3 linked regions of the Homo sapiens genome follow. The protein of the gene in region 1 interacts with the protein of each later gene in a pairwise test. Each region holds a gene or a part of one and is shown in the gene's direction. Other genes may lie near its edges.

Region 1 (7,443 bases):
ACCTACTCATCTGACAAAGGTCTAATATCCAGAATCTACAATGAACTCAAACAAATTTACAAGAAAAAAAAACAACCCCATCAAAAAGTGGGTGAAGGATATGAACAGACACTTCTCAAAAGAAGACATTTATGCAGCCAAAAAACACATGAAAAAATGCTCACCATCACTGACCATCAGAGAAATGCAAATCAAAACCACAATGAGATATCATCTCATACCAGTTAGAATGGCAATCATTAAAAAGTCAGGAAACAACAGGTGCTGGAGAGGATGTGGAGAAATAGGAACACCTTTACACTGTTGGTGGGACTGTAAACTAGTTCAACCATTGTGGAAGTCAGTGTGGCGATTCCTCAGGGATCTAGAACTAGAAATACCATTTGACCCAGCCATCCCATTACTGGGTCCCAAAGGACTACAGATCATGCTGCTATAAAGACACATGCACATGTATGTTTATTGCGGCATTATTCACAGTAGCAAAGACTTGGAACCAACCCAAATGTCCAACAATGATAGACTGGATTAAGAAAATGTGGCACATATACACCATGGAATACTATGCAGCCATAAAAAATGATGAGTTCATGGCCTTTGTAGGGACATGGATGAAATTGGAAATCATCATTCTCAGTAAACTATCGCAAGAACAAAAAACCAAACACCACATATTCTCACTCATAGGTGGGAATTGAACAATGAGAACACATGGACACAGGAAGGGGAACATCACACTCTGGGGACTGTTGTGGGGAGGGATAGCATTAGGAGATATACCTAATGCTAAATGATGAGTTAATGAGTGCAGCACACTAGCATGGCACATGTATACATATGTAACTAACCTGCACATTGTGCACATGTACCCTAAAACTTAAAGTATAATAATAAAAAAATAAAATTACATATTATAAAATTCAGTATATGGAAAGGTTTACCAATGTGCCAATTAAGATGGGTCAGTTGATTTTCGCTTGGGTTCTGATAGTCTAACATTTCTAAAGCAGCTAAGCTTAACAGTGAATATAGTTAAGATTGTTTAATTAAATGTTTTGATCTTGCTAAACCTAAACTTCATTATTTAAAATAAGGAACAGAAAAATATTTTTTTTTAATTGCAGATGTCTTTTCTCTCCTCTTTTAGGATTTTGCCTACCATTTTACAGTATTTGTCTTCTATTTTGGAGCCTTTTTATTGGAAGCAGCAGCCACATCCCTGCATGATTTGCATTGCAATACAACCATAACCGGGCAGCCACTCCTGAGTGATAACCAGTATAACATAAACGTAGCAGCCTCAGTAAGTATTCATATTCAATGAGTACCATTCACCAGCACTTCCGCTCCACTGTCAAGGCCTCCAAGAAACTCCTCAGGCAACAATAGTTTTCTTCAATGCTAGCCATTGGCATTAAATATGTAATAGCTATTTATCTGTACAATAACCTTGTAAGCAAAGTGCCATGATCACCCCCAGTGTTGTGGATGATTAAACTGTAGCACGAAGAGGTTGATGTTCATGTAAGATCATAGCAAGCCAGTAGGACTGCTTGGCTTTGCACAGCAGTGTCTACTTTGCAAAAAGAGTTGTGTTTTTTGCTTCTGATAACTTTCAGAGATGGTAAAGGAGATTTCCAGTTTTGTTCTTTAGTATTCAATAGCTGCTTGCAATTTATTTCTATTGAATGAATAGTTACTGTGGGCCTACCATTTATCAAGTAATTTTGCTGGGTGTTGAGGATGGGGTGAATAAGTTGCAGTTCCTGCCATTAAGGAAAGTGCAGGTGAGAAAGGGAGGCAAATATGCCAGCCATTGCAGTAGATGATAGGCAGATGAAATATATTCCTTGGGGTATTTATTAAATTTTTTAAATCATCTTTAATTCGTATACTGGAGTGAATTTGTCATTTTGTGTAGATAATTTGAGGAAATAATATATTATTTTTGTTGTTAGAGATCATTGTTAAGATGTCAGAAGTCCAAATTAGTTTCTGAAATATTGTGATATTTAATATAAGTATATGGCAAGTTAGTGACCCTAATGTTTTATTATGTTCCCCAGGTAGCCTATAAATAACCCAGTACTCATATAGTCATTGAAATCTGTCTGGAGCAGCACTGTCTAGTAGAACTTTCTATAATGACAGGAATATTTCATGTAAGTGCTGTCCAAAATGGTGGCCACTGGCTTCATGTGGCTATTGAGCAGTTGAAAATTAACTAGGCCAAGGAATCATAGCTCATGCCTGTAATCCCAGCACATTGGTAGGCCGAGGTGGGAGGACTGCTTGAGGCCAAGAGTTTGAGACCAGCCTGGTCAACATAGCAAAACCTTGTCTCTGAAAAAGGAAAAAAAACAGAATAAAGAATTGGCCAGGCCTGGTGGCTTGTGCCTGTAGTGCTACCTACTCAGGAGGCGGAGGTTGCAGTGAGCAGAGCAGTCTGAGCGACAGACCAAGACTCTGGTCGGGGGAGAGAAAGATAACTAGTATGACTAAGGAACTTGAATTTTTAGTGTTATTTAATTTTAATAATCACATGTGCCTAGTGGCTATCATGTTAGATAATACATGTCTAGAGTGAGTTTTGAGGGGTACAAGACAAATGATTTCAAGACCTATTGTAAGTTTCCCAAGTCTCTGGTAGGATTTGTCAAAATTTATTGAGTGCCTGCAATGAATTAGGCTGAAGGTGGGATTACAACAAAAAGGAGTCATGGTTTTAGCTTTGAAAGGTTTATAGTGTAGATTCATGACTTTAACACTTGCTTATAAAAGAAATAAAGGTTTTATTTAATCAATTCTTACCTAAAACCCCAATAAATCTAGAAGATAAAAGTGTAAGTGCTCTAGTTGAAGTGGAGGAAGAGGGCCTTGAATGATGCTCATTCTCTTTTCATAAAGCTGCCTCTACCCACCCATATCATCCCTGAGGATGATAGAATCCTTGTGATCCACATTAGAAAACCCTTGGTTTTAACAGCTTTACAAAGCAAAGTTCAGGGACTTTCCTATGCTATTAGTCATCAATTCCCATTGTATTTGCCTTTATGTGTTTCTTACTTCCAGTCCCTTCATTTTAACGGTGCAGGCTAGATTCTTGTATCTTGGATCATTGAAGTAGCCCCAAATCTATTGACAGTCACCCTAGAACCTACTTTCACAAGAATAGTAGCTGCTGAAATACGTGATGGTTGTCTGAGGTCTTTAATTTGTCACCTTTGTCCTAAGGGCCTAGTTTTCCGTGTTCTCCATAATGTAGTTCTGTTCTGGCTGCTTCTCTTTTGTGACTTTGTCCCTGTTGTCCTTCCCTTTCTAAGTGAAGCTGTCTCAGTAAACCTCTACATGCTTCAAGTTCAACATTACATCCCATTTCATCCATATGCTCACTCCAGTCTAAGTAAATCTCTAGTTTGAGTTTTATTGTAACTAAAATGTATTAGCCATCCATTTGGGAAATTAGAGAGGAAAATTCCTTTTCCCTAATAATAGGTATCAAATAATAGGTATCAAAAAATAGGTATCAAAAGCTATTGCTGTCATTCAGAAAACAATGTCTAGATTAGAAATGTATCAGAGAAAAAATCAGCAGAAGAAGGGTGGAAAGAAAAGCAGAATAGTAAACTGTGAAAATGGTCTATAGGTGAATCTGGTATTCCTTCCCAGAACTGGTTTCCTGGTTAAGAATCCCTGTGCTAAACCCACAACATTTATCAAACATTTATCATGTTGAACTGCTTTTGCTTTGTCTTTTAGTCTTCTATGGATCATAAGCCCCAAAAGGGTGAGGACATTATCTACTGTTTGTTTATATGTACCAAGTATAGTGATATACACACAGTTGGTGCTGAAGAAATTCTCATTAATTCCAAGTAGAGTGCAGATTTGTACACAGGACTGTCTCCCATACAAGAGCAAGCCAACCTGATAATTCATTTCCACTTGTCTTAGTTGAGTTTTAAAGTTACCTTCCATCATCATAGAAATTATTTGATGCATCCTCAGGTTCTGATAGTTGCTGGCTTCCTTGGCTGTGAAGCCACTACATGAACAGAACTTCATGCTGAATTTTTAAATACAGTGCTTAGGGATTCACAAATACTTAAGTGAGCCCAGAATGTGAACAGATTGAACAAATGTTCAGTGTAAAGTTGTCCACAAATGAGAAAATTATTAGGAGCTAAAATGTTTAAAGGAAGGGGGGAGGGTAATTGTATGAGGGAATAAAACAGTTGTACAAATCATCAAAAAAAAAAAAACAATGTAAAATATTTTTGTAAGTGTCGAAGTATCTTTAGGTAGATTGTTGGTCAAACTTCATATGGTTGTTCTTTAGGACACTGTTTATAAGTCGGTGTTGTAAATCTGATGTGAATTTTTGTTTCTTTTTTCTTAGATTTTTGCCTTTATGACGACAGCTTGTTATGGTTGCAGTTTGGGTCTGGCTTTACGAAGATGGCGACCGTAACACTCCTTAGAAACTGGCAGTCGTATGTTAGTTTCACTTGTCTACTTTATATGTCTGATCAATTTGGATACCATTTTGTCCAGATGCAAAAACATTCCAAAAGTAATGTGTTTAGTAGAGAGAGACTCTAAGCTCAAGTTCTGGTTTATTTCATGGATGGAATGTTAATTTTATTATGATATTAAAGAAATGGCCTTTTATTTTACATCTCTCCCCTTTTTCCCTTTCCCCCTTTATTTTCCTCCTTTTCTTTCTGAAAGTTTCCTTTTATGTCCATAAAATACAAATATATTGTTCATAAAAAATTAGTATCCCTTTTGTTTGGTTGCTGAGTCACCTGAACCTTAATTTTAATTGGTAATTACAGCCCCTAAAAAAAACACATTTCAAATAGGCTTCCCACTAAACTCTATATTTTAGTGTAAACCAGGAATTGGCACACTTTTTTTAGAATGGGCCAGATGGTAAATATTTATGCTTCACGGTCCATACAGTCTCTGTCACAACTATTCAGTTCTGCTAGTATAGCGTGAAAGCAGCTATACACAATACAGAAATGAATGAGTGTGGTTATGTTCTAATAAAACTTATTTATAAAAACAAGGGGAGGCTGGGTTTAGCCTGTGGGCCATAGTTTGTCAACCACTGGTGTAAAACCTTAGTTATATATGATCTGCATTTTCTTGAACTGATCATTGAAAACTTATAAACCTAACAGAAAAGCCACATAATATTTAGTGTCATTATGCAATAATCACATTGCCTTTGTGTTAATAGTCAAATACTTACCTTTGGAGAATACTTACCTTTGGAGGAATGTATAAAATTTCTCAGGCAGAGTCCTGGATATAGGAAAAAGTAATTTATGAAGTAAACTTCAGTTGCTTAATCAAACTAATGATAGTCTAACAACTGAGCAAGATCCTCATCTGAGAGTGCTTAAAATGGGATCCCCAGAGACCATTAACCAATACTGGAACTGGTATCTAGCTACTGATGTCTTACTTTGAGTTTATTTATGCTTCAGAATACAGTTGTTTGCCCTGTGCATGAATATACCCATATTTGTGTGTGGATATGTGAAGCTTTTCCAAATAGAGCTCTCAGAAGAATTAAGTTTTTACTTCTAATTATTTTGCATTACTTTGAGTTAAATTTGAATAGAGTATTAAATATAAAGTTGTAGATTCTTATGTGTTTTTGTATTAGCCCAGACATCTGTAATGTTTTTGCACTGGTGACAGACAAAATCTGTTTTAAAATCATATCCAGCACAAAAACTATTTCTGGCTGAATAGCACAGAAAAGTATTTTAACCTACCTGTAGAGATCCTCGTCATGGAAAGGTGCCAAACTGTTTTGAATGGAAGGACAAGTAAGAGTGAGGCCACAGTTCCCACCACACGAGGGCTTTTGTATTGTTCTACTTTTTCAGCCCTTTACTTTCTGGCTGAAGCATCCCCTTGGAGTGCCATGTATAAGTTGGGCTATTAGAGTTCATGGAACATAGAACAACCATGAATGAGTGGCATGATCCGTGCTTAATGATCAAGTGTTACTTATCTAATAATCCTCTAGAAAGAACCCTGTTAGATCTTGGTTTGTGATAAAAATATAAAGACAGAAGACATGAGGAAAAACAAAAGGTTTGAGGAAATCAGGCATATGACTTTATACTTAACATCAGATCTTTTCTATAATATCCTACTACTTTGGTTTTCCTAGCTCCATACCACACACCTAAACCTGTATTATGAATTACATATTACAAAGTCATAAATGTGCCATATGGATATACAGTACATTCTAGTTGGAATCGTTTACTCTGCTAGAATTTAGGTGTGAGATTTTTTGTTTCCCAGGTATAGCAGGCTTATGTTTGGTGGCATTAAATTGGTTTCTTTAAAATGCTTTGGTGGCACTTTTGTAAACAGATTGCTTCTAGATTGTTACAAACCAAGCCTAAGACACATCTGTGAATACTTAGATTTGTAGCTTAATCACATTCTAGACTTGTGAGTTGAATGACAAAGCAGTTGAACAAAAATTATGGCATTTAAGAATTTAACATGTCTTAGCTGTAAAAATGAGAAAGTGTTGGTTGGTTTTAAAATCTGGTAACTCCATGATGAAAAGAAATTTATTTTATACGTGTTATGTCTCTAATAAAGTATTCATTTGATAATCTTTGTGGTCATCTTTTACACCATTCACTTTGAAATTCAGTTAAAGGTTTGATATAAATTTGGCAGAGCTTATAGAATTATAATGTATAAAAAGTTCTGTTTTAAACATTTCTGTGTAAAAGTCTCTCAGGAATTGTCAGTAAGTCTTTTTTCTTTGATGAAGGTGAAAGAGGCAAGTCTTTGGAAGTAACGTTGCAAAGGAAGTTTAAATGAGAATTCTGTTTTGCCGAGTGTGATGACTTATGCCAGTATTCCCAATACTTTGGGAAGCCGAGGCAGAAGGATCACTTGACACTAGGAATTCAGGACCAACCTGGGCAATATAGCAAGACCTCATCTCTACAAAATAATTTAAAAATTAGCTGGGTGCATGTGGCACGTGCCTCTAGTCCCAGCTACTTGGGAAACTGAGGTGGGAGGATTGCTTTAGCCCAGGATGTTGAGGCTCCAACCTGGGTGACAGAGTGAGACCCTGTCTCACACACACACAAAAAAAACCACTATCCATGCTAAAAAGAATTGTTTTATTTAAAAAGCATTCATTTATACCATGTTTTATATGTTTCAGGCATTTTTTTCACATATTCATTTATTTCTCATCATAACAACCCTATGAGGTGTATACTCTTATCCCATTTTAAAGGCTTGGAGACTAAAAAACCTTAAGAAACACCCAGTGCTGCCTGCCTAGCAGGTGAGAAAGCTGGGACTTAAACCCCAACAGTCTGACTCCGAAGTGCAGACTCTTAATTTCTGTTTGCCTCAGTTCACCCAGATTTTATATCT
Region 2 (7,000 bases), on another chromosome or scaffold:
AGGGAAGCAGGTTTGTGAGAGCTCTGAGGCAGAGTGGTCAATGATTAAGAGCTCAGACTCTGGAGCCAGGGTGCCTGGATTCAAATCTGATGCCTGCCTGTTACAGCTGTGTGGCTTTTGGCAGGCCGTTTAGTCTCTTTAAGCCTCAGCTTCCTCAGTCTGTAAATTAGAGATGATGGAATGCTTGCATCGTGGGGGTGTTGTAAAAATTAAATGAGAATTCACATAGGTGCTTGGCAAGATACCTGGCCATGGCTTAAGTGCTCAGTGAATATTTATTAGAAGTGTGACTGCACGAGCATTGGGTGAGGGCAGAGGGAGGTAGCTCCCGAATCCTCCAAATGGCTTTTAGATGGATTGCAGGGAGGCTGGGCAGATGGATGAGTGGCAGAGTGAAGCCTGGGCATGAGCCTTGCAGAAAGGCTGCCCTCTGACCCAGCTTTCTCGGTGCCTCCAGGTGGAGAACCGGCCCCTGCCTGGCCACACACAGCTTCGACTGCCTGGCTGCCCCACCCCCGTGTCTTTTGGCCTCCTATTTTCTGTTGCCTTCCCCGTGGATGGAGAGCCTGGTGAGCATAGTACTCTGCAGGGTCACCCGTTTACCTCCATTTTTCCTGTTTTCTGAAGCCCATGTTGGGCTGCTAGGAACCCATCAGTCCATCTCTCACATGTACCTTGGTAGTGTTCACCTCAGCGTGGGCACTTACCCAGGGTCTTCTGGGGGATGTACAAAAAGTGCATGTGGTCACTGCCCTTTGAGAGTGTGGTGTGATTCTTCAGGAGTGCGCTACCCAGGAAAGAGATCAGTTCTAAGGTATGTTTTGTTTTGTTTGTTTGTTTGTTTGTTTTGAGACAGAGTCTCACTCTGTCACCCAGGCTGCAGTGCAATGGCACGATCTCGGCTCCTGCAACCTCTGCTTCCCAGGTTCAAGCGATTCTCCTGTCTCAGCCTCCTGAGTAGCTGGGATTACAGGCGCGTGCCACCAGGCCTGGCTAATTTTTGTATTTTTAGTAGAGACGGGGTTTCACCATGTTGGTCAGGTTGGTCTCGAACTCCTGACCTCGTGATCTGCCCGCCTTGGCCTCCCAAAGTGCTGGGATTACGGGCGTGAGCCACTGCACCTGGCCTCTAAGGTGTGGTTTTTACGGTAAATGTTCTGAAGAGCTCAGAGAAAGGGAAGACAGATGAGCTGGAATTGTCAGTGGAAGCTTCTTGTAGGAGCTGGTGCTCCCCCTGAGGAATGTACAGCATTTGTGATTAGGACACTGAGAATCCCCAGTGTCCTCTGGGCACCCAGCAAGAATTCTATTATAGTTGCTTTAATTAATGCTGCCCCCATTTCTTCCATGCAAATTATCAGGGAATTCTTTAGCACCAGAGACCCTCTCAGACCTCTGGTCATCAGCTTATGGGAAACCCTGGGTTCCTATAAACACTGCTCCTACTTTTTTCTAGTCACTCCTGGGGGCCTCTTCCACCTTGACTACTCCCTGCCCCTTCCCCTTTCCAGTTCTACTGCCTTTAGCTATGTTGGCAGTGAGAGGTGAGGATGATGACCAGCTGTAAGTGTTTAAATGTTTATCTTCAGATGCAGAGGTTGTGGTAGGAACCACAAGGCCAGAGACGCTGCCTGGAGATGTGGCTGTGGCCGTTCATCCAGACGACTCGCGATACACAGTAATACCCAGTGCGCTCCTGCACTCTGGCCCGCCCCGCCAATGGCCTTCTCTTCTCTTGGGTTTTAAATGGTGGCTCTTTCTCTCTTGCTTCTACTTCCTTTTCCTGAGACTTCTCTCAGTGGTTCTGATTGGACTCCCTCCTCCTCTTATAGTTTTTCTGTAGCTCAGGGGTTGACAAACTGGCCCATGGTCCTAATCCAGCTTGCGGCCTTTTTTTTTGAGACAGAGTCTCGCTCTGTCACCAAGGCTGGAGGGCAGTGGTGTGATCTTGGCTCACTGCAACCTCCACCTCCTGGGTTCAAGCAATTCTCCTGCCTCAGCCTCCTGAGTAGCTGGGAGCGTGGCACCATGCCCGGCACGTGCCACCACACCCAGCTAATTTTTTGTATTTTTACAAAAATTAGTAATTAATTTTTTTTAAGTAATGTAATTTTTAAGTAATGTTATTTAGTAGAGACGGAGTGTCACTGTGTTAGCCAGGATAGTCTCGATCTCCTGACCTCGTGATCTGCCCACCTCGGCCTCCCAAAGTGCTGGGATTACAGGCGTGAGCCGCCGCGCCTGGCTGCTTGCAGCCTTTATATTATCTATGGCTGCTATTATATACCCTCTCCAGCTCTGCTGCAGTGGCATAATAGAGTAATTGTGCTGAGAATGAATTTGTCTCTAGGCCCAAAAGCCTAAAATATCTACATTCTGGCCCCTTAAGAGTTTGCTGACCTTGCTCTAGCTTGCTACCTTCCACTTTCTACCTTCTTATTCCTGGGGTTCTCACGCCCCAGCCCAGACCCTTCCAACCCTCACAGGTGCCTGTCCTTGATCCCTCTCCCTTCCCTTCAGCATCTACACGGGCGACAGCTTCGTCACCCCTTGATGGGGCAGCCTCTTCCCCTCATCACAGACTATGCTGTTCAGCCACATGTGGGCACGGGTGAGTGGAAGTCAGGGGAGGGAGAGAAAGTTGGGGGTCCTGGAGGAGAGGGGAGGGAACCAGGAGGAAGAGGAAGGTGGGAGTGGGAGATCCTCATATAGGGTGGTCTGAGTGGGGAATGGGAGGGAGGCACAGACAGAGAAAGTCGCAGGGGCTGGGGCGGTGCAGGTGATGATGATACATCTGGAAAAGCAAAAGCCAAGGTCAGGTTCAGTACTCACCATGGCTGTGCTCCCCAAGGGGCAGTGAAGGTGACTCCAGCTCACAGTCCTGCCGATGCTGAGATGGGGGCCCGACATGGCTTGAGCCCCTTGAATGTCATTGCGGAGGATGGGACCATGACCTCCCTCTGCGGGGACTGGCTGCAGGTGGTACCACCCTATGTTACCCCATCCTTTGGGGGCTCTCTGTCCCCCTAATCCTCCTCCTAGTTTCTTATTTCTCTAGAGGCCTTCAGTCTTTACTCTTGCCGCTTTTTCTCCAGGGTCTTCACCGGTTTGTGGCCCGGGAAAAGATAATGTCTGTGCTGAGTGAATGGGGCCTGTTCCGGGGCCTCCAGAACCACCCCATGGTACTGCCCATCTGCAGGTAACCTCATTTTAACTCCTTTACTAAGGGCTACCCCAAAAGGGAATGTATGGAGCTTAAGGGTGACAATAGGATGGGCTCTGCACCCCTCCGTTAGAATACGAGCTCCGTGTCGGTTTTATTCGCTATTGTATCCTCAGTACCAAGGGCCTGGCATGGCATGGGGTCTTGTGCCCCTGGGAGAAGTCACAGGGCCGGAAGAGCAGTGGACTCACCCTGTCTCTCTTTCAGCCGTTCTGGGGATGTGATAGAATACCTGCTGAAGAACCAGTGGTTTGTCCGCTGCCAGGAAATGGGGGCCCGAGCTGCCAAGGTGAGGCTGCAGTGTAGGAAGGACTGGGGCCAGGGGTTGGGGGAGCTCCCTGAGAATTGGAATGAAGAAATGGGAAGCAGGAGACCTCCTGCCCTGAAGACCTCTCCAGCTGTGGTAACTGAGAGGATGTGTGGGATGGAGGCTGGGCGGCCCAGCAAGGGCTGGCTCATATCCTTACTCAAGCCCAGAATCTTGGCAAGAGGCTTGGGAGGTCCTTTCTGAGTTTTAAAATGACCTCAGAGGCCACTCGTCCTATCTGTGGAGGTGCGGCCGTGCAGGAAGGGCAACATTGTCTAAAGTCCCCTTTCTCTCCAGGCTGTGGAGTCGGGGGCCCTGGAGCTCAGTCCCTCCTTCCACCAGAAGAACTGGCAGCACTGGTTTTCCCATATTGGGTAAGGGTAGGGTAAGGGGAGCTCTTGTGGAGATGGGGAGGGGGGACTGACTGGTTATTCTAAGACTTCACGAATGTCCTCCCGGCAGGGACTGGTGTGTCTCCCGGCAGCTGTGGTGGGGCCATCAGATTCCAGCCTACCTGGTTGTAGAGGACCATGCGCAGGTGGGTAGGAAGAAGCACCCGGAGGGCCGAGTGTGGCACAGAGCACCTAGCCCAGGAGTCAGAGCTCCGCAGGGCCAAGTCCCGCTCCTGCCTGGTCATGTGCTTCATGCTCATAGTCATGTAACCTTCTGCGCGATCAAGGCTCCCTGAAGTGGCATTTCTTTATCTCACCCCTGGGGGAACCTGGCCACTCTAAGACCACATGAGGACGTGAAAACCAAGTGACATTTACACCTGTCAGCTGTTCTTCCTCACTCTCCCCAACCCCTTCCTACTTTTGCAGGGAGAAGAGGACTGTTGGGTGGTTGGGCGGTCAGAGGCTGAGGCCAGAGAGGTAGCAGCGGAACTGACAGGGAGGCCAGGGGCAGAGCTGACCCTGGAGAGGGGTGAGTGCCTGAGCTGGGGAGGGATGTACAGGGGAGCGGGGGCCTGGGCATCTGGGCCTTTGAGGGGAACAGATCCCAAGATACAGAAGGTAGGGTCAGGAAAGTTGGGAATGGAGCCAAAGGGGACAGCCCTGGTCTCTGGGGGTGGGGGTTGGCCTAGAATGGTGGCAGCAGTGGTCTGAGGTCCTAGAAGCCAAGGTTCCAACTGTCCCCATTCTTTTTCTGTTTCCCAGATCCTGATGTCCTAGACACATGGTTTTCTTCTGCCCTGTTCCCCTTTTCTGCCCTGGGCTGGCCCCAAGAGGTGAGGTGGGTTGAGAGGGCGAAAGTGAAGGGGAAACGATAAGGAAGGGATGGCTGGGCCCCCACAGAGGCTTGAGGGGGGCCTGGGGCCTGGGCCTCTTACTGCTCCTCTTCCCCCTAGACCCCAGACCTTGCTCGTTTCTACCCCCTGTCACTTTTGGAAACGGGCAGCGACCTTCTGCTGTTCTGGGTGGGCCGCATGGTCATGTTGGGGACCCAGCTCACAGGGCAGCTGCCCTTCAGCAAGGTAAGAGCCCTTCAGTGCCCTGCCGCTTTCTGTGACTCCAGTGTTCCCCAAACCTTGTCCTCCCTTCTAACCCCTAATGTGGTCCTTTCCACGTTGCTGATTCCTTTTTCCTAATTCACTTCCTACCCTACCCCCAAAAGTATGGAGGCCAGAGATCCCAAGGCACCTCCAAGGAAACCCCCCTCTGTTGACCCCTCCCTGCCCCCAGGTGCTTCTTCATCCCATGGTTCGGGACAGGCAGGGCCGGAAGATGAGCAAGTCCCTGGGGAATGTGCTGGACCCAAGAGACATCATCAGTGGGGTGGAGATGCAGGTGAGGACGAAGCACCCACTAGAGGGACAAGGTTTGCAGGGTTTGCAGGAGAGAGGAAGGCAGGCTGAGGGAGGAGTGAGGCCAGCAGGTGTGACCCTTATAGAGGCAGGGCCTTCGACCTGGGTCGTGAATTGCCCCCTTCCATCCCCAGGTGCTGCAGGAAAAGCTGAGAAGCGGAAATTTGGACCCTGCAGAGCTGGCCATTGTGGCTGCAGCACAGGTGAGTCATCGCTGCCTGCCCCCCACCAGCTCTAGCTCACCACCTCTGGCTTCCTCTGCAACCCAGGTCCTGGCCCTGCAGCCACAAAGGCATCTGCCACCCTTCTTCTTCCTCTGGTTGCAGAAAAAGGACTTTCCTCACGGGATCCCTGAGTGTGGGACAGATGCCCTGAGATTCACACTCTGCTCCCATGGAGTTCAGGGTAAGCCTGGGCGAGGGGTGTCGGGGTGAGCAGAGGGCAGCGGGCACCTGTGCAGGGGCAGGGCAGGGGCAGGACTTCTGGTGCTGCTGCCACCTACATGCAGACTACCTCGATTCTTCCCTTCCAGCGGGCGACTTGCACCTGTCAGTCTCTGAGGTCCAGAGCTGCCGACATTTCTGCAACAAGATCTGGAATGCTCTTCGCTTTATCCTCAATGCTTTAGGGGAGAAATTTGTGCCACAGCCTGCTGAGGAGGTAAGAGAAAACAGAGGTGCTTGGGAGTAGGGTAGTCAGGTGTCAGAGGGCCAAGGTGGCATCTGGAAGGAAAGGAGGCAGGGGAGGGGGAGTCAGGCCATCCTGCCCCCTCTGCCTGCAGCTGTCTCCCTCCTCCCCGATGGATGCCTGGATCCTGAGCCGCCTTGCCCTGGCTGCCCAGGAGTGTGAGCGGGGCTTCCTCACCCGAGAGCTCTCGCTCGTCACTCATGCCCTGCACCACTTCTGGCTTCACAACCTCTGTGACGTCTACCTGGTGAGTGAGGCTGGGGGAGGCTTGGTATTCCCATGCCTGCTTCTAATTCCTCTGGAAATTTCCAAGGCAGAGAGCTCTGGAGTTAATAAGTTCCCAATTGTCCCCTCAGTTAGGAGAGGAGAGGAGACGAGGGAGTCTCAGTTCCCCTCTTCCTGGGACTGGTTTTGGCAGTGCAGCCCAGGCACTGTTGCCTGCCTGTCACCTGGGGAGAGGAGGAGGAGGGAGACTTCTAGAAATGTCTGACAAGTCGGTGTCAGAAGGCAGAGGGGAATTTTTTCAGTCCCTGTAGTTGCTGAGTTTGGCCCATGGGCAGGCTGCGTGCTGAGAGAGGCCTGGGAGGGACTAGCAGCGGTCTTTAGACCAGGGGTTCTCACGCTGTCCTACGTCCAAAGCACCTGGAGGGCTTGTTGACGGTGGATCCCCCCCGCTCCACTGCCACCCCAGAGTGGCTCCTTTAGCAGGTTGGGGTGGGGGTGGGTGGTGTAATGAATATTCATTTCTTGTCCCAAGTGGTGCTGCTGCTGCTGGCTGTGGACCACTGCCCTAGCTCAGCCTTTTAAAAACCTCTGTCCCCTGTTGATAAGCAAAAAACTCAATGATTTTTTTCCCTAAACTACATGTTTCCCTGGAAATCCTGTCCCTGTGTACTGCAGAGAATTGCTGTCCTGGAGTCCCCTTCTTTGTGCTGAGTGTGTCCTGGGACTGTGGATCATATCAGAAGTGCTAAGTGCT
Region 3 (7,593 bases), on another chromosome or scaffold:
GTGTGTGTATGTGGCGTGAGATGTGTATGGTGTGATTTGAGGGGTGTGTGGTGTGACGTGTGTGGTGTGATTTGAGGTGTGTGTGATGAGGTGTGTGGTGTGATTTGAGGGGTGAGGTGTGTGTGGTGTGAGGTGTGTGTGGCGTGATTTGAGGTGTGTGTGTGTGGTTTCAGGTGTACACAAGAGCCCCCCCATCTTTCAACACGCATGAGGGTCTGTCTCACTGACACTTGGTACCTCCACTATCAGCAGGGCTGCATGACAATGACAGTGTGATCTGTGATCAGGAGGGTAGGGGTGTCTATTTGGGGGTATTGTGGGGGTGTGCGTCTCAGATCTGGAGGCAATAAGAGGTGTTGGGGGTCATTTATAGGGTGATATACACATTTGGTGATGGTGTGAGGCATGGGGTCCATTGGAGAGGCAGGTGTTTGCACAGTGATGTGGCACAGGTGTTGATGGTGTGAAATAAACTGTGCCTGGAGCTGCACTGTGGTGACAGGAGTGTGTGTTTGGAGTGAAATGAGGTATGTGTGTTTGAGGGTCATGTAAGATGTGTATGTATGTGGTATGATGGTAGGTGTGTTTGTTTATAGTATGAGGTGCACATTTGTGGCATAATACAAAGTTGTGTGTGGGACATGTTATGAAGTGTGTGTTTGTGGTATAATGTAGGGTGTGAGGCATGTGTATTTATGGTATGATGTGAGGCAGATGTGTGTGGTATGATGTAGGGTGTGTGTGTATATTTGTGGTGTGATTTGAGAGTGTATGTGTGTGATGTGAGGTGTGTGTGATTTGAGGGATGTGTGTGGTGTGAGGTGTGTGGTGTGATTTGAGGTGTGTGTGGTGAGGTGTGTGGTGTGATTTGAGGGGTGAGGTGTGTATGGTCTGAGGTGTGTGTGTGTGGTGAGGTGTGTGTGTCTGTGGTGTGTTGTGGGTGGGTGCACACGTGTGAGTGTCTGTGGTGTGTGTCTGGGGAGAGACACAGGCTACCACAGCGCATACACAGCCTCAGAGTGAACGTTAGGAGGCCCAGGTTTCCTCCCCAGAGACCACACGGATCCCTTAGTGAGTCCCTATTCTGCACAGCCCCTGTTCCCTGTTCTGAATGTCTTAGACCCTAACCCACTTCTGACTCACCCGAGGCTGCCCTTGAACACCCTACAGGACATTACAGTGGCCCTGGGGACAGTGTACGCACCCTCCAAGTATGACATTACCCACATACCACAGACCCAGCAGGCCTGCAGCCCCTCTCCCCATGTTCAAAGACTTCTTCCCTAGGTCAGATTCCTCCATCCAGACTAGTGCAGCAACGCAGCAGGGAAGTGCTTCAGGCCACTGCTCCTTCTGGATGATTCGTGCTAATGTTCAACCTTCTGTATTCCAAACCCACCATAGGACAAAGAGGGCCTTGGAGCCAACAACGTGAACCACAGCTGGAGGCTAGAAATCTGAACTCAAAGTACCAGCAGGGCCACGCTCCCTCTGAAGGCTCCAGAGAAGGGTCATTCCTTCCTCTTCCATGGCCTTGGTGGCTCCCAGGAGTCCTTGGCATTCCTTGGCTTGCAGCCACACTCCTCCCATCTTGCCTCTGTCTTCACCTGGATGTCTTTTCCCTGTGTCTCTTTCTTCTTATGACACCGGTCATACTGGATTAATGGCCTGCCCTATATTAGTATAACCTCATCTTAATGAGTGATATCTGCAATGACCACATTTCCAAGTAAGGGCATGATCTGAGGTACTGGTGGTTCAGACCTCAACCTGTCTTTGGGGGACAGAATTCAACCCATAACAGCATGGTTTACAGTAGAAGGTGAGCATGAGGCATGCCCTGTCCCCTCTCTCATTCTTCCTCCACCATTTCCCTCCTGCAATGAAAACCCGCATCCTGGCTGGGCACAGTGGTTCACACCTGTAATCCCAATACTTTGGGAGGCTAAGGCAGGCGGATCACCTAAGGTCAGGAGTTCAAGACCAGCCTGGCCAACATGGTGAAACCCTGTCTCTACAAAAATACAAAAATTAGCCAGGCATGATGATGGGCACCTGTTATCCCAGCTACTTGGGAGGCTGAGGCAGGAGGAGAATGGCTTGAACAGCCCGGGAGGCGGAGGTTGCAGTGAGCCAAGATCGTGCCACTTACTCCAGCCTGGATGACAGAGCTCCACCTCAAGAAAGAAACAAAAAGAAAGAAAGAAAGAGAGACAGAGAGAAAGAAAGGGAAAGAGAGAGAGGAAGGAAGGAAGGAAGGAGAGAAAGAAAGAGAAAGAAAGAAAGAGAGAAAGAAGAAAGAAAGAAAAAGAAAGAAAGAAAAAGAAAGGAAGAAAGAAAAAGAAAGGAAGGAAGGAAGAAAGAAAGAAAGAAAGAAAGAAAGAAAGAAAGAAAGAAAGAGAAAGAAAGGGAAAAGAAGGAAGGAAAAGAGAGGGGAAGGAAGGAAGGCAGGCAGGCAAAGAAAGAAAGAAGAGAGAGAGAGAGAAAGGAAAGAAGGAAAGAAGGAAGGAAGGGAGGGAGGGAGGAAGGAAGGAAGGGAGGGAGGAAGGGAGGAGAGGGGAGGGGAGGGAAGGGGAGAGAAAAGACCGCATACCAGGCCAGGTGCGGTGGCTCACGCTTGTAATCCCAGCAATTTGGAAGGCCAAGGCAGGCGTATCGCCTGAGGTCAGCAGTTCCAAACCAGCCTGTCCAACATGGTGAAGTTCTCTACTAAGAATACAAAAATTAGCCAGGCGTGGTGGCGTGCACCTGTAGTCCCAGCTGCTCCAGAGGCTGAGGCAGGAGAATTGCTTGAACCTGGGAGGCAGAGGCTGCAATGCGCCAAGATCCCGCCACTGCACTCCAGCCTGGGCGACAGAGTGAGACTCCGTCTCCGGGAGCCCACGGCATTGAGCAAACCTCGGCATTATTTGCAGCAAGAGCCTCTGGCATCCAAATAGCAACCAACACCACGCCTCTGTAGTGTGCTGCGCAGCCTCCACACTCCAGTCTGAGGCTCCCTGTTTGAGTCCCGCCCTATGCCCAGCTGAGGTTATAGCACGCTCACCTCCAGAAGAGGTAACCCAAGCTCTTTACTCTACTGGAGATCACCTCTGTCCCCACTCTGGGCGCTTCTCCCAGCTGACAGAAAATACCTCCAGCTGATGTCAGAAAATACAGGGCTGGAGGCTGGCGTACAAAGTCAGTCCCCACAGGCCTATGGTGGCCCATAAGCCACGTCTACCCCTGCTCCTCACCTCCACACCTAAGTTAAGAATTGCAGGCCGGGCGCAGTGGCTCACGCCTGTAATCCCAGCACTTTGGGAGGCTGAGGTGGGCGGACCGCCTGAGGTCAGGAATTTGAGACCAGCTTGGCCAACATGGCAAAACCCCGTCTCTACTAAAAATACAAAAAGAAAAAATAGCCGGGCCTGATGTCGCGCACCTGTAATCCCAGCTACTCCGGGAGACTGAGGCGGGAGTATAGCTTGAACCCGGGAAGCAAAGGTTGCAGTGAGGCGAGATCGCACCACTGCACTCCAGGCTGGGCGACAGAGTGAGACTCTGTCTGAAAAAAAAAAAAAGTGCAGGTACCCCTCTCCAGCTCTCCCCTCCCTACACATCCCTCAAACCGTCCCGCTGTAATGCACCCGCCCTGTTCCTTGGTAACTTGAAGCTGCTTATAGAATGTGGAGATGGGGGTAATTGAAAGGTCGGCCCAGGCCACAGAGCCCCTGAGCTCTGCTACCGGCAACCCCAGCTGCACTCCCCACTCTCTGTCACCAGGAGCTGCCGGGTGCCTGGGATATCCTGGCAGCTCTGCTCAAAATGATCTACGACTTCATGAATTTATTTGGCTCCTCCTCGGGGCCAGGGTGAGTGTCATGGGTTAATAAGGCCGGCCCCGCCTTCAGGAGCGGTCCACTGGGAGATGTGTGCTGCGCAGCCCTCTTGCGAAAGCTCTCCCCTGGTGGGACATTCTGGGCACAACCAACAGGCCGGGGGAAATGAGAGGTGATCCATACTAAAGGGTCAAAGTCCCCGCACCAGGCAGAGGCCCCAAAACACCGCAGCGTACATGTGCTGCAAGGCGAGTACGGGTTGGTAAACAAAACTATATTCAGATGAGCTCGGGCCGGGTGACTTAACAGATGAGGAAGTGTCTCGGGGCCATCGGCGGAGGCGCAGCCCAGGGGTCCCCAGCTCCCCGCCTCGCCACCTGGGGACAGCCCACGGCCCGGGGCTCGGGCGCCGCCTGCTGTCGCGGTGCGCAGCGACTACGGGAACTCTTCCGCAGCAGACGGGGTCCCCGCGGCCCGCTCCCCCAGGGGCAAGCAAGCGACCACAGGGGACCGGTCCCGGGGCTGGATGTGGCTCATGTCCGAAGCGCACGGAGCCGAGCCGGTGTTGCTCAGGGAGGCTGCCCGCCCCTTCACGCAGACCCTGCGGCTCTGCGTGCCCTCAGGGAACAGCAAGGTCCGAGCCGGTGTCGTCGAGGGGGCGACGGGACGGAGGGAGGAGCCTGAGGGGTCCCGGTCGAGGGAGGGGAGGAGTGGGCGGGGCGGGGGTGGGGCCGTTCCTGCGCTCTCCTTCGCCTGCGGGCCGGCACTGCTCACCTCTCGTCCAGGGACATGACGGGCACGCCAGGCGCCGTTGCCACCCGGGATGGCGAGGCCCCCGAGCGCTCCCCGCCCTGCAGTCCGAGCTACGACCTCACGGGCAAGGTGGGTGGGCCTCTTCCGTGAGACCCCCGCCCTCCTCGGCGCTAGCCCCTTCCTGGCTGCGTCTGGGTTGGACTCAGCCCTTCCCCCAGGCAGCTGCGTCTCCCAGAGGAGGGAGGGAGAGAGGGTCAGGACACAGCCTCTGGGGCCGTCCCAAGCTCTAGGTGTCTCTGCTGGCTTGGTGGGGGCGGGTCGCGGAAGATCGCAAAAACTGAGTGATCCCCCCGCCGGCCCCAACTCAGTTCTCTTCTGCCACACTCTGGCAAATATGAGCCCCCGGGAGCCCATGCTTCTTGGTGAGGGTTAAGCGCGCAACTCTCGGGGCTCAGGCTGGGAAGGGCTGGGAGATGGGGACCGAACGGAGACTCGGAGAGGACGTCCCCTGCTGGCAGAGGAACTGGCGTTAATGCCATTTTCCGAGCTAAGCTCTTAGTTGAGATCTGACATCCAGGTTTAAGGCCTGATGTCCCCCAGCTGCTCCCCTCCCATTCCACCCGCTGGAGGCACTGCCTCCCACCTTCCTCCCTGCAGTCGGAAGCCGCTCCTCCCAGAAGGATGTTGCCAGCCGGCCTGCAGGTCACTTGGGAATTTTTCGAACCTGAGAAAGATTTCAGTGGTTGGTCTTTCGCATCCCGCACTTGAGAGAGCTCCAGGGCTGCTCTCTGGGGCTTGCTCCCTCTACAGGGGTGTCCTGTATGGAAACAGGTAGGGACAGCAGTGGACTGGTCTGTCGCCTTCCATCTGTGTCCTTGGAGTGAGCGGGTACCAGAAACTGAAAGAACTGCTGAGGGAGCCTAGAGCTTCCACTCTTCCTCTGCAGGGTTGGGGATGGAGTGAGGGCTGTCCTGGATTCCGCTGCATGGCCTTGAAGGAGACCTGCCTCTCTCTGGGCCTCGGTTTCCTCCCCGACACCAGGGCTCACCCTTGCTGGGAGCCTCAGCCTCCACCCCAGTGTTTCGGGGGAAGCCACCCTGCAAGTCATCCGCCCAGAGCCGTTGAGATAGGCGTCCTGTGTGGGCTTGTGGCAGGAAATGGGCCCCTGCACCCTCGGAGAGGAGGAGCTGCTGTTGGCCAGGCCCCAGGCTGAGGGGGACTGCCTGACCTTGTTGCCCTGCAAACCAGCTGGGTTGTTTGCCTAGGAGGTGGCCAGGCTAGGCAGCTGTTTGTGTTTGGTGGAATCACCGAGCTGGGTGGGTAGCTGGCATCGTTTGCTCAAGGCAGCTGTGATCTGTAAAGTACACAAAGACTGGCCCTCCCTCCCTCCTTCCTGCTCCAGGGCTGGGACCCAGGAGCCAGGGAGGAGTGCAGGCTCCAGAAAGCTCCTATCCCCCACCCCTTCATCTGTTCCCTGGCCAAGCGGCATTGGCCGGAGAGTTGGTCCCCAGCCTCCCCGGGCCTGCCCCAGGGGAGTGAGTCCAGGACCCTCTGAGAAAGCCTGGCAGGAGCTCCTTGGACCAGACTAGGGGTGATGTGGCCCACAGGCAGACAGTTCCCACCCTGGGCCACTCTTCCCTGGGTCTTAGGTGATTCACCACGATGATGGGCCCTAGCCATTAACAGACTCTAGAAATACCTCAAAGACATTATCCCTCCTCCTTCTACCCACTATGGAAACCATGCCACAGAAAGGTTAAGGAATCTTCCTAAAGTCACACAGTAGGCCATTTACAAATCAAGACCCATCCTTCATACCCCTTCTGCTCAGCCACCCCTGCCTCTCCACCAGAGTTAACTAATGCCAGTACCCCATGCCCACAACAGGAATGCCTTTGGGCTCCACTGTCAATTTCAGAGCCTCAAAAATAATTCAAACCTAGTCCCTGCTTAACCCATTAAGCCACCTAACCAGCAGCTGGGAAATTCCAGCATTGGATCTAGACCCCTGTTATCCAAGATTGGAGAACAGTGGGACAAAGTGCTCCTCTCCACCATTCCTGCGTGTCCCTGGGGAAGATGAGCAGAGCAGAGCCAGACAGTAAAGGAGAGGGCCACGCCCCCTCCACAGGTTACCTCCTTGGTACTCCTGCCCGCACTACCCACAGCAACCCCGGGATGCCGATCTGCAGCCACATGTCCCATGTGGGAGGTTTCTGCTGAAAGAACTTCCAACTACACATCTCCCCACTTCAGTATAAATTTCAACCTTCCCTAATTCATGCAACCTTTTTTTTTTTTTTTTTTTTTTGAGACAGAGTGTCGCTCTGTCACCGAGGCTGGAGTTCAGTGATGCAATCTCGGCTCACTGCAACCTCTACCTCCTGGGTTCAAGCTATTCTCCTGTCTCCGCCTCCCAAGTAACTGGGACTACAGGCGTGTGCCACCACTCCTGGCTAGTTTTTTGTATTTTTAGTAGAGATGGGGTTTCACCTTGTTGGTCAGGCTGGTCTCAAACTCCCAACCTCAGGTGATCCGTCCACCTTGGGCACCCAAAATGCTAGGATTACACACATGAGCTACTGCACCCGGCCTCATGCAACCTTTTAATAAACATAAAATGTCATTAGAAACTTCCAGTCAGGCGCGGTGGCTCACGCCCGTAATCCCAGCACTTTGGGAGGCTGAGGCGGGCGGATCACCTGAGGTCGGGAGTTCAAGACCAGCCTGGCCAACATGGAGAAACCCCGTCTCTACTAAAAATAAAAAATTAGCCAGGCGAGGTGGTGCATGCCTATAATCCCAGCTACTCAGGAGGCTGAGGCAGGAGAATCATTTAAACCTGGGAGGTGGAGGTTGTGGTGAGCCAAGATCTCGCCATTGCACTCCAGCCTGGGCAACAAGAGCAAAACTCCATCTCAAAAAAAAAAAGAAAGAAAGAAAGAAAGAAACTTCCAAATAAATGTTGTGACACAAAAAAAAAAACCCAAACAATATTCATTATAGAGTATGCAAATGA

Evidence for each region. The genes of interacting proteins can lie anywhere in the genome.
Region 2: the proteins of MAL2 (region 1) and VARS2 interact in binary tests that used the Homo sapiens proteins (3 or more experiments, as listed by UniProt).
Region 3: the proteins of MAL2 (region 1) and RAB37 interact in binary tests that used the Homo sapiens proteins (3 or more experiments, as listed by UniProt).

Annotation. Positions count from the first base shown.
Region 1 is NC_000008.11:119,239,018-119,246,460, forward strand, and holds the end of MAL2 (protein MAL2), read left to right. Parts: intron 1-1,147; coding exon 1,148-1,303; intron 1,304-4,399; coding exon 4,400-4,471; 3' UTR 4,472-6,656; downstream 6,657-7,443. UniProt on the Homo sapiens protein: Member of the machinery of polarized transport. Required for the indirect transcytotic route at the step of the egress of the transcytosing cargo from perinuclear endosomes in order for it to travel to the apical surface via a raft-dependent pathway.
Region 2 is NC_000006.12:30,917,238-30,924,237, forward strand, and holds part of VARS2 (valine--tRNA ligase, mitochondrial isoform 2 precursor), read left to right. Parts: intron 1-457; coding exon 458-569; intron 570-1,589; coding exon 1,590-1,678; intron 1,679-2,520; coding exon 2,521-2,611; intron 2,612-2,851; coding exon 2,852-2,979; intron 2,980-3,095; coding exon 3,096-3,199; intron 3,200-3,430; coding exon 3,431-3,512; intron 3,513-3,827; coding exon 3,828-3,904; intron 3,905-3,992; coding exon 3,993-4,068; intron 4,069-4,351; coding exon 4,352-4,454; intron 4,455-4,687; coding exon 4,688-4,758; intron 4,759-4,878; coding exon 4,879-5,004; intron 5,005-5,212; coding exon 5,213-5,317; intron 5,318-5,468; coding exon 5,469-5,537; intron 5,538-5,660; coding exon 5,661-5,739; intron 5,740-5,866; coding exon 5,867-5,994; intron 5,995-6,115; coding exon 6,116-6,268; intron 6,269-7,000. UniProt on the Homo sapiens protein: Catalyzes the attachment of valine to tRNA(Val) in a two-step reaction: valine is first activated by ATP to form Val-AMP and then transferred to the acceptor end of tRNA(Val).
Region 3 is NC_000017.11:74,732,663-74,740,255, forward strand, and holds the start of RAB37 (ras-related protein Rab-37), read left to right. Parts: upstream 1-4,593; 5' UTR 4,594-4,610; coding exon 4,611-4,703; intron 4,704-7,593. UniProt on the Homo sapiens protein: The small GTPases Rab are key regulators of intracellular membrane trafficking, from the formation of transport vesicles to their fusion with membranes.